Regions from separate parts of the Homo sapiens genome. Here region 2 is linked to region 1. The links come from fine-mapping of genetic effects on gene expression. A gene starts in region 1. The other region holds a variant in brackets. All regions are shown on one strand. Distances are from middle to middle.

The links. PIP is the estimated chance that this variant, and not a neighbour inherited with it, causes the effect.
Region 2: its variant is the best candidate, but not a certain one, in a credible set for the expression of MLYCD in thyroid (GTEx, PIP 0.79).

What each region holds. Positions count from the first base shown.
Region 1 is chr16:83,896,886-83,902,259 of GRCh38, reverse strand. It overlaps MLYCD (malonyl-CoA decarboxylase), which reads right to left and starts at 3,145. Exons shown (of 5, transcript NM_012213.3): 1 at 2,588-3,145. The coding sequence starts at 3,115. RefSeq lists silencers at 2,476-2,645, 2,946-3,375.
Region 2 is chr16:83,936,134-83,941,507 of GRCh38, reverse strand. No RefSeq gene overlaps it. Among named protein-coding and RNA genes, the nearest start is that of OSGIN1, 14 kb to the left of the region's middle. The variant A/G (reference allele first, on the strand shown) is at 2,240.

The DNA of each region.
Region 1 (5,374 bases):
AGAAAAAACATAAACATGAACAAAAAAATAAACACAAACAAAAAACCGTAAACAACAAAACAAAAAACCATATATATATATATATATATATATATATATATATACGCACGCACACACACACACACACATATACACATACATATATATGTGTATATATGAGAAAACAACTACGTAGAACAAGGGAAGGGGAAGGGAATTAATAGGTTCAGCTACTAACAGTTACATGCACTGAATATAAGGCTGGGGTTTCTAGGTAAAGAAATGGAAGGGGCACAATAAAGCAATCACAGAAAGGCTCCTGAAGCCATTATGTCCAAACCATATGCAGAGGCAAAGATCAGACTGTCGTTATTCATTCTGTTTGATAAACACCTCTGGTCCACAGGACTTTTGGCCTAGCATTACAGTATGCAATGTTTTTTTCCCTTCTGTAAATAGCCTTGGTCAAAAAGCAAGGAAACTTGTGAATGTCTAAGGACTCAGCAGCCTCTGTATTTCCCAGGGGCCAGCTCCTTTCTCTCAACAGTCAAGTCTGGATGTGAGTGTCTTCAGTTGCCATGCAACGTGTTCCTTCCCAATGACGCGATAACCAAGAGTTTTCTTGAGTGGGGAAGAACAAAAGGATGTATTCCACAGCATCTCACAGAACCAGAGAATTCAGAATTGGACCGGATGTGAGAAATCAATGAGGGACAAAGCTGTCCAAATGTCTGATATGAGGACCCTCTCAGCTGGGCAGAAACCTTTCAAGTCCTTCATGGCTTTCTCTCAGGCTCAAAAATCTATGACTGAGTGTGGGGCAGACTCACCTCCACACAAATGCTGAATGATTAGTGTGTCAAGTGTGTCTTATGCCAGGACACCCAGGAATCTATTGCAATGATTCATTCATCATTCTGCTATGCAAGAAATTTAAAGACAAGTTTCCCAGTTTTCGAGGAGCTGATCATTTACATGGGGGGATGATATACTGCAAGTACTATGTCCAAGTGTGGATCAGAAAAACTCAGCTATTCAGACTAGGCTTGAGCCCAGAACATGATAATTCAACACAGTAAGAATTCATGACTGATTCTGTGTCATGCAATTAGCAACTGTGGGCTTTCTGTCTGAGAATCTTACGGCCAAAGATGCCTGGCCCTCAGTAACACTTAGCGCTGTAAATTAACCAGCTATCACGGGGAATCAAATCATGGCCACTGTTGTCACTCTTGACATTAATCCCATACTTAATTATGCCCAATTTTATGCATCTAAGTAGCCAAAAAAGAAAGTTTCTAATAAACATCTGATTAACGGTAAGACAGTGATATAAAGCGTAGTGCAAATAACCCTGGATTAGGGTGGGTGATCAGCAAGAGCTTTTCGCTCTGAATTTCAGGACAAGTAACACAACCTCAGCATGTTCTCCTTTACTGTAAAAGGGATACGTGTTATCACCCACGTAAGACTGAAGGAATGTAAACTATTAAACCAGTATTAGAGTTCTTAAATGGGTCAAGTCATAATCATTCAAGTGTTCAATTTTTTTTTAACACCAACTGCACATAACAAACTTCTGAATGTCCAAAACTTCCTGAAACATTTACGTCATTTTTCGTTCATTAAAAGGGCAGGTTAAGCCTGGGCCACATGGTGAAACGCCCTCTCTACAAAAAAAAAAAAAAAAAAAAAAAATTAGCCGGGCATGGTGGCCTGCACCTGTAGTCCCAGCTACTCAGGAGGCTGAGGTGGGAAGATTGCTTGAGCCTGGGGAAGTCGAGGCTGCAGTGAGCCGTGATAACACCACTGTACTCCAGTCTGGGCAACAAAAATAAAAATAAAAAAAGGGCAGGTTAGTTTTTCGCCGTATTTAATACTAACAGTATAAAAGAAGAGTATATGTTGCTCTAGGCCTTCTTTCGGGTCATAATCATTTAAATCTCAAAGTATGTGTCTGCATTTAACATGAATGAACTGTGCTAATGCCTGATTACCTCAAGTCAACTCAGAATCATCACATTAAGTACTGAACGCAGGGAGTTAAATGCCCTCCCAAAAGTCATGGAGCACAGACAAGGCCAGAAGCCATGGAGACTCCTGGGTGGTGGTGGTGACCTTGAGTCCTATTTACCTTTGTGCATTTCACAGGACTTCTCAGGACAATGTCTCACACATAGCGGGTGCCCAGTGAACTTCTGAAACACCATCCAGGGTCTCAGAAGGCTGCCTGATGCTCTAGTTCAGGTATACCATATAGATGAAACACTTCTCAGCTACAATAATTTCAAAAGACTGTAGAGCACACACTAATCAGGTACGAGAGGTGACAGCTACCTTAAAGACCACCAAGTGCTGAGTATTTAGTAAACACTATACAAGTGAGGACTTCAAGGACAGACTGGAGGAAGGCGGGGGTGTGCTCTGACGAGGCCAGGACTCAGACAGCGTGGGAAGGGGACACAGTTGGCAGGCGGTAACTGCGGGCGAAGTGAGCGTGCTATCGGGCAGGGAAGGCGGGGTGTGTGGGACTTGGAGGGGGCAAGTGAGGACTACTCGAGGAGGGCGGCCAGTCCGCGCTGCCGGGGGATCGACGGCGGCCCCTTACCCGGACGTCCGGCCCCTCCACCAGCTTGAGGGCCTGCGCCTCCAGCAGGTCGGCCCGCAGCTGCACCAGGAAGCGCACGCCGCCGTCCAGCTTGCTGATGTGGTGGAAGAGGCCGCGATAGCGCGGCACCAGCGCGTAGCGCAGCCGGTCCTCGGCCTGCAGCAGCACCGCCGCCTCCCGCTGCTGCTGGCGCAGATGGAGCACGCCGGCGCTCTGCTCCGCCACCTGGCCGTGGTCCACGCCGAAGCCCCGCGCCAGGCGGCCCAGCAGTTCGGCCCGCTGGGCCGTCTCGGCCAGCCCACCGTAGAAGCTCACGAAGTCCGCGCACTGACCCTCGGCGGGCGCCGGTGTCTTCTCGCGCAGCTCGTAGGCCGGCGTCGGCGGCACCGCGCGGCGCAGCAGCTCGTCCATGGCCCGCTCCAGGGCGCCGGCCGCCTGCCCGCTCGCCAGCCGGGGCCCGGGCGGCCGCGGGGGCAACCGCAGCGGGAGGAGACGCCTGGCCGTCAAGCCTGGCCCGAAGCCTCGCATGGTGCCCCACAACAGCTGCCGAGGGGGAGCGCCGCCGCCGCTGCCGCGCTTCCGGCTTCCGGCGCGCGCCGGCCCCATTGGCCGAGGCCGCGAGCCCGGCTGGGGACGCGGCCAATAGGAGGGCGGGGCGGTGGGGGCGAGGCGGCGGGGGCGGAGCGGCTCTGGCGGCGGCCGGAGGCCAAGTGTGGCTAAAGGTTACTGCCCCGCGGCTGGGCTGCCTCGGGGCCTGCTCCCGCGCGGCTGGCGGCTTGTACTCCGGTCCTAACACCTGACCGCCTAAAGGCACCGGCCCAGCCCCTCCTCTCTTTCCCGACTGCACTGCACAAGTGCCGCCTCCTCTCTAGATCCGAGCGCCTCCAGCCTCCCGGTGCATCAGAGTCACCTGGGAACTCCTGCACCGGAGGATTCCTGGGCTCCGAAATCAGAATCCTAGAGATTCAGATTCAGTGTGTCTGGGAGGAGCCAAGGAATATGCTTGCTTAAGAGGTGTTTGTGGCAATCCTCTGGCATGGTAGGTAGCCTTTGTTTGACCCCTGCCTAGGCACTCACCATTCGCGTCAGTGTCTTACACACATGACGCTCAGAGCCACAGAGGTTGGAGGGGTGTGTGAGTGTGTGTGGAGAGAGAGAGAATATGTCTATATGTATGGATGTATGTACACATACGCACGCATATACACATACATATGTATGTAAAAGAGACATGGAGACAGAGAGACTGATGGAAAGCCATACCCTTGAGCAAATGCCAGAATGAGACAAAGAGTTTTCTTTGAAATAGTTTTCAGATAATTGCAGTTATCAAGGCATATTTATTTTGTCCTCTAGAAAGATAGGCCTGAACTCTAGTTCCCCCTCCTTCCCCAATCCATTACAATCTGTAGAAGAGAATGTCACATACCAGCCATGTCTCCCACATGCAAAATTGCAGGAGGCATTAGGAACACAGTGGGATTTTGTTCCACTCTGATGGAAATATGGCATCTTTGGTTGGAGGGTGAGGGAGCCATGTACTTGGTTGACTATGTCTAGGTGCTAGGATTTCTATAGGTAGAACCCTTTGGTGCAGGTCTTGCAGTATAAAAGACACCTGGAGGTAGTTCTGTATGAGGACAGCCTTTGCTGGGTGTGTCTCATCTTATGGGGCACGAAGAAAGTACGTTTGGCTCATTCTGCCAAGACACAGACACACAAAACATTCTGAAAGCCTAGTGGTGGCTTTTGAGGACACCTCTCCATTCCTCTTTTCTAAGAAGTGGTGAAACCATATTGCCAGCTGGCTAAGGGAGTTGGTGGGGTCCAAACTCTGGTGTTTGTCTCTTTGCCTTGTCGAGTGAGCTTTTGTCTGTCCTAGGATACTCCTGCCTTGCTTTAGGAATCTTGTCTTGAAAGCTTGACTTTGCTTAAGCATTTGCTAAGTGTAGTACTCCCACAACCCTGTTCTTTCTCATCTTTCCCGGTGCCTTCCTTTTTATGTAATTTCTGGCTTCTGTTTTTTTTTTCTCTGTGTTTATACTTTTTTCTCTAGGCGTCAACAGCCATCCTCTGCTTTTTCCCACTCATGTCCTTATTTCAAAAGACTGCCCCAATCCAAAAATGAAATTAAAGAAACAATTCTATTTACAACAACATCTGAAGGGATAAAAGAAACATGTTTAACCAAGGAAGTGTGAGACTGGTAGATGGAAAACCACAGAACAGTATTGAAGGAAATTAAAGAAGACCTAAACAAATGGAATGGTCCATGCATGGTTCATGGATTGGAAGATGTAATATTGTTAATATAGCTCATATGGTTTGGATCTGTGTCCAACCAAATCTCATGTCTAGTTGTAATCCTCAGTGTTGGAGGTGGCGCCTGGTAAGAAATGATTGGATCATAGGGGCAGAGTTCTCATAAATGGGTTAGCACCATCCCCGCTTGGTACCCTACAGTGAGTTCTCAGGAGATCCGGTTGTTTAGAAGTGTGCATCACCACCCCCTCTCTCCTGCTCTGGCTATGTGAAGCTCCTCACTCCCCCTTTGCCTTCCGCCATGAATGGAAGCCTCCTGAGGCCTCTCCAGAAGCAGAAGCCACTACGTCTTCTGTACAGCTTGTGGAACCATAATCCGATTAAACCTCTTTTCTTTATGAATTACCCAGTCTCGTGTATTTCTTTATAGCAGCGTGAGAATAGACTAATACAATGGCAATACTCCCAAAATTAACCTACAGATCTAATACAATCCCTATTAAAATTTCACTGCCCTTTTTTTTT
Region 2 (5,374 bases), 39 kb before region 1:
CTGCCTCTCAAAAAAAAAAAAAAAAAAAAAAAAAAAGAAGGCATTCCTGCCGGTGTGCCCCGTGTCACGTTGCCCAGGCTGGTCTCAAACTCCTGGGCTCAAGTGATCATCCCGCTTTGGCCTCCCGTGCTGGGATTACAAGCGTGAGCCACCGGGCCCGGCTCAGCAGTCAACCCCTTTTCTGACTTCCGTCCCATACATCAGTTGTGCCTGTTCTCGATGTTGGCATAGATGGAACCGCGCAGGACGTTCTCTCTTGTGCCTGGCTTCTGTGGCTCGACATTGCGTCTCTGCTGGTCACCACACCGATGTGCAGACCAGCGGTTCCCCCTTCTCACTGCTGAACCCGTCCCCTGCCTGAACACCTGCAGCTCTGTTTCCCGGCGATGGAGGCTCGCTGTCACCAGCTTGCTGCCGGGCCGTTCCCATGGGAGTCTTTGTGTGCCATCTGTTTTCATTTGGGCATTTGGGTGAAGACTGAGAAGCGGCACTTCTAGGCCACAGGGAAGGTGAGGGTGATGTGTATTAGAAACTGCACCCACTTTTCCAGAGGGCTGCCCCCACTGCACCGGGGTTTCCACAGCAGCCTTTCAGCATCCTGCCCCCTGCTCCCTGCTACCAAGCGGGCTTTCTACCTGCAAAGCAGGCCACGCCCCTCCCTTGCTTACAGCGCTTTGATGACTGCCCGGCCTTCAGAGGAAAAGTTTAGACTCAGCTGAGCCACAGACCTCCTATCCCCCAGCCCTGCGGGTCTCCTCAGCTGGACCTCTGACTCGTTCCCACCTTGGACCTCATGTTCCAGCCGTACTGAAAGCCCACTGTCCTCTGAGGACACGCCATTTCTGTCCTTCTGCACAAACTGTCTTTTCTGCCTGGAGCACAAGTCCCTCCCTCGCCCTCCTGGGGAGAGCCTCCTTGTCTTCTAAGATCTCTAAAGCATCTTCTCACCCTGCTAACTCCTCCGAGTTCCTGACCGGCATCCTCTGGCCACCTCCACCTGCCTCCTCGAAGCCACCTTGGTTTGGGCTGTCTGAGCACACTGGGTTCGTGTTGTCGCTGAGGATGCTGTACAGTCAGGGCAGGGATGGTGACTTTTTCCTCCCCAGCTGTGTCCCCAGAGCCCAGCAGGACAAGGAGGCCTCAGCAAACATGCAGTCAATCCGTGGAACTGAGTGTGGGTAGGCACAGGCTGAGCGATGAGTTCCACGCTGAAGGGGGCAGCAGCGTGAATCTCTGCAGATGCCTGTTCCTGTGAACATCACCCAGGACAAGACGGGGAGTACGCCCAGCCTCCTGGAAGCCTTCCTTGGGGCCCCTCAGTTTTGTTTTTTTTTTTTTTTGAGACGGAGTCTGGCTCTGTGCCCAGGCTGGAGTGCAGTGGCGCGATCTCGGCTCACTGCAAGCTCCGCCTCCCAGGTTCACACCATTCTCCTGCCTCCACCTCCCAAGTAGCTGGGACTACAGGCGCCCGCCACAGCGCCCGGCTAATTTTTTGTATTTTTAGTAGAGATGGGGTTTTACCATGTTAGCCAGGATGGTCTCAATTTCCTGACCTCGTGATCCGCCCTCCTCAGCCTCCCAAAGTGCTGGGATTACAGGTGTGAGCCACCGCGCCCGGCCTGGGACCCTCAGTTTTTTGACCCCTTTCTGCTTTTTGTCCCCACAGAGTAGTTTTGCCTGTTCTGAGCTTGACATAAATGGAATCACACAGAGTGTCCTCTCTTGCGTCTGGTTTGTTTTGATGTTGTGTCTCTGAGATTCAGCCACACTCCTGCTTTGAGAGGCAAATTCCTCTGCCTTGACATGTGGCATCTTCCTTAGCCTGGACGTGACTGTTTCTCTCCCTAGACTTCTCTTCCGACTTCCTGTTTCCTTCCTCTGCCGGGGTGGGGCTTGGTCTGTAAGTTCCTGGTTTCTGAGTAGACAAGGCCTCTTCCTCTTGTTCTCGGCAAGTTATCCTTGACATTCAGGACATTTCGGTTTGAATATCCTTGAAATACATGGGCTGCAGTACTGCCCCGGCACCTCATGGAGGATTCCTGGGCAGGTCGCCCAGGGCTCCCCATATCTGGTGCCCTCTTTGCAAACACCTGGCCTTTCATTCACTGCAAACCCTGGTCCACGCACGCCACCTAGATCCACGAGGAGGAGGCCCGGCCCTTCCTCCATGCCTGCTGGGGTGATAACACAGCCAGCCACTTTGGCTTTGTCAGAGGAGGGGAGTATTACAGTTTAGTCT[A/G]CATGCAGCAGTGAATTCTGAAAGTGGCGTGCCAGGACAGCAGCACCTGGGGATTTTGAAATCCAAGTTCGTGGGCACCCTTCATCCTCCCGACTCACAGAATCAGAAACACTGGTCTGACTCTGGGGCGCAGCAATCGTTTTTCTTTTCTTCGAGACGGAGTTTTGCTCTTGTTGCCCAGGCTGGAGTGCAATGGCACAATCTCGGCTCACCACAACCTCCACCTCCTGGGTTCAAGTGATTCTCCTGCCTCAGCCTCCCAAGTAGCTGGGATTACAGGCATGGACGACCACGCCCAGCTAATTTTGTACTTTTAGTAGAGATGGGGTTTCTCCCTGTTGATCAAGCTGGTCTCGAACTCCCGACCTCAGGTGATCCACCCGCCTCGGCCTCCCAAAGTGCTGGGATTACAGGCCTGAGCCACCGTGCCCGGCTGCAATCATGTTCTTAACCTCCCCCCTACCCAGGGGTTCTGATGTATGCTCAAGTGTGAGAGCTTCTGACTCCTGGCCTAGGAATGTGTCAGAGATGAATCAATCAAAATGGAGCATCGTTTTCTTTGAGTAGATGTTATCACTATTCCAAAAAATTAAAAAGAGGTTCTAGTACATGGGGCTGACGTGGTCTATTACATAAGCAGGGCACCAGAGCCTCCTTGATGGATCATCCAGCTACCAGGTGGTCGCCTGGCTCAGTGCTGGCATGCAGGTCTGCCTCACGCAGAGGAACATGTTGACTGCACGTGTCATGTCTCCCTGAGAGCAGGTGTGGGCAGGCTGATCATTTTCTACTGGCTTCCCCCATCCATTTTCCACCTCCTCTGTCCTGCTCTGAGCTCCAGGAGGCTGAGCCCCAGGCTCTGCACCCTTACGCGCTTTGGCCAGCTGGCTTCTGGTTGCTTTTGATCAATGGGTGGCTGTGACAGAGTCCAGAGGGTGAGAGGAGTGGGTGGTCAGGACAGTGCTGTGTTGACAAATGTTTAACAACCAGTCTTGGGGCCGGGCGTGGTGGCTCACGCCTGTAATCCCAGCACTCTGGGAGGCTGAGGTGGGCGGATCACGAGGTCAGGAGTTTGAGACCAGCCTGGTCAACACGGTGAAACCCTGCCTCTGCTAAAAATACAAAAATTAGCCAGGTGTGGTGGCAGGCACCTGTAATCCCAGCTACTCAGGAGGCTGAGGCAGGAGAATCACTTGAATGTGAGAGGTGGAGGTTGCAGTGAGCCGAGATCATGCCATTGCACTCCAGCCTGGGTGACAGAGCGAGACTCCATGTCAAGAAAAAACAACCACCACCAACCACCAGCCTTGGGGGGCACTGTGGAAAGCCCTGTTTTGCAGTCCACCAATATCTGTGGCGTGAACACTCCCACCATGATCAATGTCACGTTACCAGTGTAATACTTCTGAACAGTGGAGTTGGAAAGAGATGTGCAGCTTTGCACTCTGCAGCACTACTGCTCCCTGGAACACACTTTGGGAACCATGGTTAGCAGCTGGCATAAATGCCGACTGTCACCCTTAAACTCCTGGAGACCAGGGACTTAAGGAGTTAGGGATAGTGGCTGGGGCTCAGAGGACTAGGAGGCCATGGGACAGCAGCATCTCCATCTTTTGGTTCTGGCTACCCATCGTAATCACCTGAGACCATCTCCAGAGATGATAATCCTGGATTTTTTAAATTCTCAAATGATTGCATTGTGTAGGCTGGGGAGAACCACTGCCTTAGAGCTAGGATCAGTGGGAGAGGCAAGAGGATGATGATCTTTCTATATTGCAATCTTGGGTCACATTAATAAGGGCATAGTCTACAGAATGTGGGAGGTGATGGTCCTGCTTGATTTGTCATTGATCAATGAAACCACGTTCTGAGCCCCACAGCTTAATGGAAACACCAAGTTGGAAAATGTTCAGAAAAGAGAAACCAGTAAAATGAGGAGACTCAAAACTTGGTCTTGAGGGGCTCAAACTAGGCCTGTGCTCCACAGAACTCCACAGATAGCGGCCATTCTGGGAAGCATGGGAGCCAGTTCAGGGCATGCCATCTGCCACACCGGCCCTAAGCTCTGTCAGTTGAGGACTCACCTTTGAAGCCACTCTGGTGCTTCTGTCTTCCCACTGAGGAGCAGGAGGGATTTCCTGAGGGTGGAAATGGCAGATGCTGGGTGGGGAGAGCCCAAGATGAGGGGGACCTAGGGGCAGCGCAACAAGGATTCACTTGGGTGACGACGACGATCAGTGATTCTCCAGGGTCATACGGGAAGACCAGCTAATCTCAGGCACGATCCCATGAGCTCATGAATATTTAAGAAGGAGGATGGAAAGGAGAAGGTCAGATGACAGCACCGGCCATGCTGGTAGCTGTGCCCAAGAACGCACACCCTGTGCCGGAGGTCAGGTCTGCCAAAGCTGGGACCGCGCTGTCCTCATTCTCTGTTTCATCCCTGGCCCAGACGGCACTCAGCGCATGCTCAGTACAGTTGCATTCAATGAATGAGTGAGCAGGAAGGCGAGACGGGGTCCTGATGCGGGGGGAAGATGGGCCACCAGGGCTGGCCTTTGTGAAGAGGGGGCTTTTCCACTGAGGCCCGAGGAGTGGGTGGGGAGCCGGCCACGGGAAGAGCACTCCAGGCAGAAAGAAGAGCACAGGCAGAGGCCTGGGGGCTGGCAGGGCCCTGTGGGTCTGAGGTCAGCAGTAGGACCCGAGGGTGTGGAGCTCTGGGGGTGAAGATGGCAATAGCGGAGAGGGGGACAGAGGGTTGACCCCACAGGGCCGAGAGGCAGTGGAGTCAGGAACCAGCCTCAGGGGCTGCTTCCCGGCTGTGTGGCTTGGGCCAGTGACTTAACCACTCTGGGTCTCAGTTTCCTCAGGGCAAAATGGAGAGGAAAACAGCAGCCATCTCCCGTGACTGAGAATGACGGGTGGCGCTGGGAATGGTGCCTGGCACACAGTAACCTCTGCAGCAATGGTCGCTGCCATTGTTATTATTACTGTTATTAGCAGCGGAGGAGCTGGGGAGACAGAGCTGGGTCTGGATGCTGGGTCAGCCTGCCTGGGTTCGGGGTCTTTTCCCCTGATTAGGAAGAGTCTGCAGCTGGCAGAGGTCCAGGGTTTCTGGGTGCTGCCCAGGCCCTT